2 linked regions of the Homo sapiens genome follow. The protein of the gene in region 1 purifies or fractionates together with the protein of each later gene. This does not show direct contact. Each region holds a gene or a part of one and is shown in the gene's direction. Other genes may lie near its edges. The genes, in order: ZNF501 and MRRF.

The links.
Region 2: the proteins of ZNF501 (region 1) and MRRF purify together in Homo sapiens (affinity purification with mass spectrometry; one large-scale study listed by BioGRID and IntAct). This does not show direct contact.

What each region holds. Positions count from the first base shown.
Region 1 is NC_000003.12:44,734,888-44,737,689, forward strand, and holds the end of ZNF501 (zinc finger protein 501), read left to right. Parts: coding exon 1-350; 3' UTR 351-2,196; downstream 2,197-2,802. UniProt on the Homo sapiens protein: May be involved in transcriptional regulation. Essential for Golgi structural integrity.
Region 2 is NC_000009.12:122,327,310-122,331,136, forward strand, and holds part of MRRF (ribosome-recycling factor, mitochondrial isoform 1 precursor), read left to right. Parts: 3' UTR 1-3,827. UniProt on the Homo sapiens protein: Responsible for the disassembly of ribosomes from messenger RNA at the termination of mitochondrial protein biosynthesis. Acts in collaboration with GFM2. Promotes mitochondrial ribosome recycling by dissolution of intersubunit contacts.

The sequences.
Region 1 (2,802 bases):
ATTCTGGAGATAAACCTTTTAAGTGTAATGAATGTGGGAAAGCCTTTAATCAGAGTGCATGTCTCATGCAGCATCAGAGAATTCATTCAGGAGAGAAGCCCTACACATGCACTGAATGTGGTAAAGCCTTCACTCAGAACTCTTCCCTTGTTGAACATGAAAGGACTCACACTGGAGAGAAACTTTATAAGTGTAGTGAGTGTGAAAAAACTTTCCGCAAACAAGCACACCTTAGTGAGCATTACAGAATTCATACTGGAGAAAAACCTTATGAGTGTGTTGGATGTGGGAAATCCTTTAGGCACAGTTCAGCACTTCTTCGACATCAGAGGCTTCATGCTGGAGAGTAAAATTTGGAATATAATGAGTATGGGAAGATTTGTATGGAAGCACCTTTTTTTTCTCCTAAATTCCTAGGAATGTAAGACTCAATCTGTAGCTAGTATGAATATTTTGTATTTTGAACAAGAAATGTTGTGTCCTAATGTGTCCTAGTCTGGAGTTTGATGCCTTATCTGCTGCTCAGTGGGTGTAACCTTATCCCTTCTGAGCCTCAGTTTCCCCATTCCCCCCAATAGAAAAATGGGGATATTTCCTAGGGTTGTCCTGAGAATAAAATGAGTTCTGTGTGACAGTTAACTGCCATTAATTAATTAGCCGTTCTAAAAGTTTATTTACAATATCAAAATCTGACAAGTAAATCAGCATTGTTGTTTGGTTCTCATAATGTATTGTTTCTTAAGAACATTTTGTAATTGGGCTATGATTTTATGATCTACAGACGTCTATTTAAACTATAATGTCTTGGTTTAAATAGGATAATACAATCTAAGACTGGTTTGTCCTTGAGAAATTTCAGATTTAATCAGAGAAAAATGTACTGATTGGGATTTGAGTGGACATTGTGGGGTGTATTTCTGGATACCCTCAAGATCTTCATTTAAATTTTGATACTTTCTATTACTAGATCTAATTTGATTTTAAGCTCTAAGTTTCACTTTTCCATTAAACGGAAAGCCTCCCTGACATTAACTGAATAAAACCTCATGTTGTGGGACTTCTGTGTGTGTTTAGGGTTGGCAGCAGGTGATTAGGAGAAGGCATATGACAGTAGAGAGGACTGGAATATAGAGGAGAATATAAGCATGTAGATGAGGATGTGGCTGTATTTGTTTTGAGTTCTAGGAGCACAGCACCAAATGTGGTCTCTTAAGGGAAGATGAGGGTAGAAGATGTTAAGATCCCAGGTTCCAGCAACTGATGCCACTGACTAACAACTAGCCACTTGTCAGAGGAAGGAGAGAACAGTGTCTTGGGGATGCTGATGGGTTGGAGTGCCTAATGGCTCATTAAAAGCCATGAAAAAGCAAAGAAATCAAAGAATACTTTTGATGGAGCTTTAGGCTATGCTAAGCCTTTTAATGTAAACAAGCACCTCTAACGCTAAAAGCACCCTTGCAAGAAAGGTAGGAGTTACTATTCACATCCTAGAGTCAAGGAAAAAGAGAAGATGTTTGACTTGCTCAAAGTCAAGCAGGTAATGTCAGAATTGAATCTCAAATCTATATCTTTATAGATTTGCAGTTCTGGTTTATATAATACCAAAGTCACATACAGGTAATTTCCCACCATTGAACCTTCCTGTTGGTGTGAGATGCCAAATCTGTGAAAACCAGACACAGGTGGCCAGGTGGGTGTCGAACTCCTGACCTCAAGTGATCCGCCTGCCTCAGCCTCCCAAAGTGCTGGGATTACAGGTGTGAGTCACCACATCTGGTCGGATTTTAACTATTCTAATAGGTATGTAGTGGTATTAATTGTTTTAATCTGCAGTTCACCAATAATATATGAATTTAGCATCTTTTCATATGTTTGCCATCTGTATAGCTTTGGTGAGGTATCTGTTAGAGGTTTTGCCCATTTTTAATTGGATTGCTCATTTTCTTATTGTTGAATTTTAAGTGTTCCTTGTATATTTTGTATAACAGACCTTTATCAGATAGGTCTTTTGCAAATATTTTCCTCCCAGGCTGTGGCTTATTTTCTCAATCCTTGATTCCTTCTCTTTACTTTTTTTTTCTTTTTTCTTTTTTTAAAGAAATGGTAGCATAATATACACAGTTGTCCATTTTTTAAAGACTAAACCATCTCACAGATTGTTCTGTATCAGTAAATAAAGATCTTTCCCCCACCCTTGCCCAGTGTGTCATTGTCTTAATAGACCATTATTAGTTCCCTATTGGTGGACACTTAATGGCTTTTATTTTTCTGTTGTAAGCAAAACTGCATATACAGCATCCTTGTCTTTAGGCACATGTGCAAGATATTTATAAGGTAATTCTCAGGCTGGGCACAGTGGCTCATGCCTGTAATCCCAGCACTTTGGGAGGCCGAGGTGGGTGGATCATTTGAGGTCAGGAGTTCGAGACCAGCCTGGTCAACATAGTGAAACCCCACCTCTACTAAAAATACAAAAATAATTAGCCAGCATGATGGAGGGCACCTGTAGTCCCAGCTACTCAGGAGGCCGAGGCAGGAGAAATTGCTTGAACCTGGGAGATGAAGGTTGCAATGAGCTGAGATTGCACCACTGCACTCCAGCCTGGGCGACAGAGCAAGACTACGTCTTAAAAAAAAAAAAAAGAAGAAGAAGAAGTATGTGCCTTGGTAGCTTTGATAGAGAGTGTGACCTCCCAGATGTTTAGTTAATCCACTAACAATGGATGAGAGGTGTGCTCAGTAAAGCAAATAAACAATTGCTCAACAATTCTTTGGTACCAAAAAATTTTTTTTGAATTTCCA
Region 2 (3,827 bases), on another chromosome or scaffold:
GTGCTTTTTAGTTTTCAAACTGCTTCTACATTCTTTGTTGCATTGAAACCACTCAGTGAAACTTTGCGGTTAGACAAAGAGTGATCATAAAAGCTTGTATCCTCAAAAGCCACTTTGAGGCTTTCTTTTGCCCTAATAGACGGTCATTTTTCATGATGTGCATTTGAAATGATATGTTCCCTATTTTGGGGGTACAAATTTTGATATGTATGCAGGAAATGTAGCTTATAGAGTATGTTGTTTAGGTTTTCCATTATTTTTTGACCCTTTGATGAGTCTTGGACTGAAAGTGGTGTGTTTCAGACCCCTGCTATTAACATTTCTGTTCCTTCTTGCATTTTCTGCTTTATGAAAATGGATTCTGCTTTGTGAAAGTACTGCTGTGTTGTTTTATACATAGCGCTCCAGACGCTTACATCTTCTTTATTTCATTCAGTGCTCTTAGTCTGAATTTTATCTTGTTGTATATCAGGATTACAGCTCTTGCTTGCTTTTTGTTTACATTTGCTTTCCCCATTTCTTGATTTTTAAGCTTTCAGAATCACTATTTTAGGTGTTTCTTTTTTTTTTTGGAATTGGGTTTTGTTCGATGAACCATTCTGAAACTCCTTTTTTCTTATTTTTATTTTTAATTGTAAAATATACATAAAATTTACTCTCTTAACCATGTTTTTTTTTTAGACAGGGTCTTGCTCTGTCACTCAGGCTGGATTTCAGTGGCATGATCTCAGCTCACTGTAGCCTTGACAACCTGGGCTGAAGCAATCCTCCCACCTCAGCCTCCTGAGTAGCTGGGATTACAGCCACGTGCACCGCCACACCTGGCTAACTTTTAAAATTATTTGTAGAGACAAGGTCTTGGCTATGTTGCCCAGGCTGATCTCAAACTCCTGAGCTCAGGTGATTCTCCTACCTTGGCCTCCCAAAGTGCTGGGATTACAGGCTTGAGCTTCTGTGCCCAGCCTTAACCATTTTAAGTGTACAGTTCAGTAGCATTTAGTACATTTACATTGTTGTACAACCATCCTCCAGAACTCTTTACCATGCAGAACTGACGCTCTATACCCATTACACAACCCCAGTTCCCCCTTCTCAGCCCCCAGCAACCACCATTTATGAATTTATAAATTTGATTAGGAACATCATGTTAAGTGGAATCATACAGGATTTGTCTTTTTGTGACTAGTTTATTTCACTGAAGCATGATGTCCTTAAAGTATATCCATATTGTAGCATGTATCAGAATTTCCTTTCTAAGGCTGAGTAATCTGTTGTATATATGAATAAGTATATATAAAGCTCCTTTTAACAGACACTTAAATTCATTTACATTTATTTATAATAGTGATATGTTTAGTAGAACCCATTTACTTTTTCTTTATTTTCAGTATTAACATAAGTGATTTGGTGTTTTAGCCCTAAGCAGATAAAGGATTAGAGATTAGAATGAGGAAGAGGGTTGCTTCACATAGACGAAGTTCAGTTTTTGTGGAATAAACAAATAAGTGATTATCTCTGTCTGCCTCTTTGTCTCTCTCTCTCTCTCTTTTTTTTTTAATAAGAGATGAGGGGTCTCCCTATGTTGCCCAGGCTGGACTTGAACTCCTGGGTTCAAGTGATCCTGGAACTGCAGATATGCACAGCTGTGCCCGAAGATCCCTTTCTCTTACATTCCTTTCTTCTGGTCTGTGTTTCAGTCCATCCTACGCTGTTAAGTTAGAACAACCTGAAACAGCTTTTATCATGTCACTCTTCTCTCAGAAACCTTCATTGGTTCCCTGTTGCCTGCTGAATTATGTAAACTCTTCACCCTGGCATTCAGTAACTTCTGCAATCTGGGCCTGATGTATTCCTTTAATTGTGATGCATCTCTTACAACTACCCTGATACCACCAGTGCTTAAGCGAAACGGAATTATTAGCTTTTCTGAAAGCTAATAATTTTGTGCTGCTTTCTCTCACCTTCAAGCCTTTTCTTAGGCTATTTTCTTTGCCTAGTGTATGCTCCCTTAAACCACTTCCCCACCAGCAGGCAAAACTTACCTAGTCTTATAAGCCCTTCTTGGTCCCATGTTCTTCCTTACACTAACTCATTCATTCATTATCCATCCCGATGCTTCTCCTGATTCATTCATTCATTATCCATACCGATGCCTCTCCTGATCCCTAAACCTGCCTATGCCTATTAAGCGCTTGGATTTGCCTCAAGCATCTGACGTTCAGCTACCCACCTGCGTTTCCTCTCTCAGGAAAAGCCTCACCATCCACCCAGGTGCCAAGCCAGGACACTGGGAGCCACTTTTGCCTCCCTGTCCCTCTCCCCTCATCCAATAAGTCACCAAGTCCTGTCAATTCTCCCTTCAACAGACCTTTCCTTTCCTTCCTGGGCACACCCTTGAGTGGTGCTCACCAGGGAACAGATGTGGCAAATGTTCCAGGCTGGCCTCACCCGGGTCTCTAGACACTTGGCTCAGAGGCAGAACATGGCTAACCCTAGATAAGCCTTGTGTGAATTCCTGGCAAGAAAGTCCCCTGCTGTCTTAGTCTGTGCATTCTCTGACTAGCACAGTATGTGGCGAGAGCAGGTGTTGAGGAAATGTTTGTCTAATTCTAAGGGGCCTGCCAGGCCTTGATACAAATGGCGTCACATTTACATGAATAACCCAGAGTTTCTCTAATTATCCTCACCTGCCTGCCCAGGACCTTCAACCTCATCTGCTAAGTCGGCCTCAGGCGTTTCTAGACATCTTAAGGGACCGCATGGCATCCAAGGCCACTGGCATCTACTGTACTCCCCTCCCACCGGCGCTTCCCTTTGCTAGCATCTGCAGCCACAAGTGACACTTAAGGGAGATTTACCTCCACTACTGGGAGTGTTAGTGTCTGTGACAAAAGTGCTGGTTGCTGGGCTGAGGGGGTCTGAGCATGCTGGGTGGAAGCCCTGAAGAGGAAGGGAGAAGGTCTCTGCCCACATCCCACATTTGCCGTGCATCCCTGAGTTCCAAAGCAGCCTCGCTAGGCTCTAGAGCCCCTAAATCTCCAAAGACAGCAGCTCCTCCGCGAGCTAGCTGCCCCTGACCGAGGCTCACAGCTTGCCTAGGGGAGGGCAGGGCAAAAGTCCCTGCTATTCTCTTCCTTTCCTGGCTCAGGCCTTGATCCAAATAGCTCCCTTCTTCCAAGACACTACTCCCCAGGCCTCCTCTTCCTGATAATAATAGTGGCTAACAAGTTTTACTAGATTTTAGGCAACTCAAGGAGCTAGCTGTTATTTTGTTCATTCTACAAGTGAGGAAGGAAGCACAGACAGTGGTTAAGTTACATGTCCAGAGACACACAGAGGGCCTAGTGCAGTAGCTCATGCCTGGAATCTCAGCACTTTGGGTGGCTGAGGTGGGCGAGTCACTTGAGGTCAGGAGTTCGGGACCAGCCTGGCCAACGTGGTGAAACCCCATCTCTACTAAAAATAAAAAATTTAGCCAGGTGTGGTGGCGGGCGCCTGTAATCCCAGCTACTTCGGAGGCTGAAGCAGGAGAATCACTTGAACCCAGGAGGCAGAGGTTGCAGTGAGCCAAGATTGCACCACTGCACTGCAGCATGGGCAACAGAGCGAGACTCTGTCTCCACACAGAGGAACACTTGGCATCAGGGAGTCTGTTGTCTGACCCGCAACTAGGCAGCCTCATACATTATTTTCACTAAGAGACCAGTGGGGCTGGAAAGGGACTTGTGAGGTGCTAAGTAGCCAGTGAGAGCTTCTGGGTCCTGTCGCAGTTTTGCCCTTTCTTCCCTCAAAAAAAGGTCTCTCCACTTCTCTGTGGGAAAGGCTTG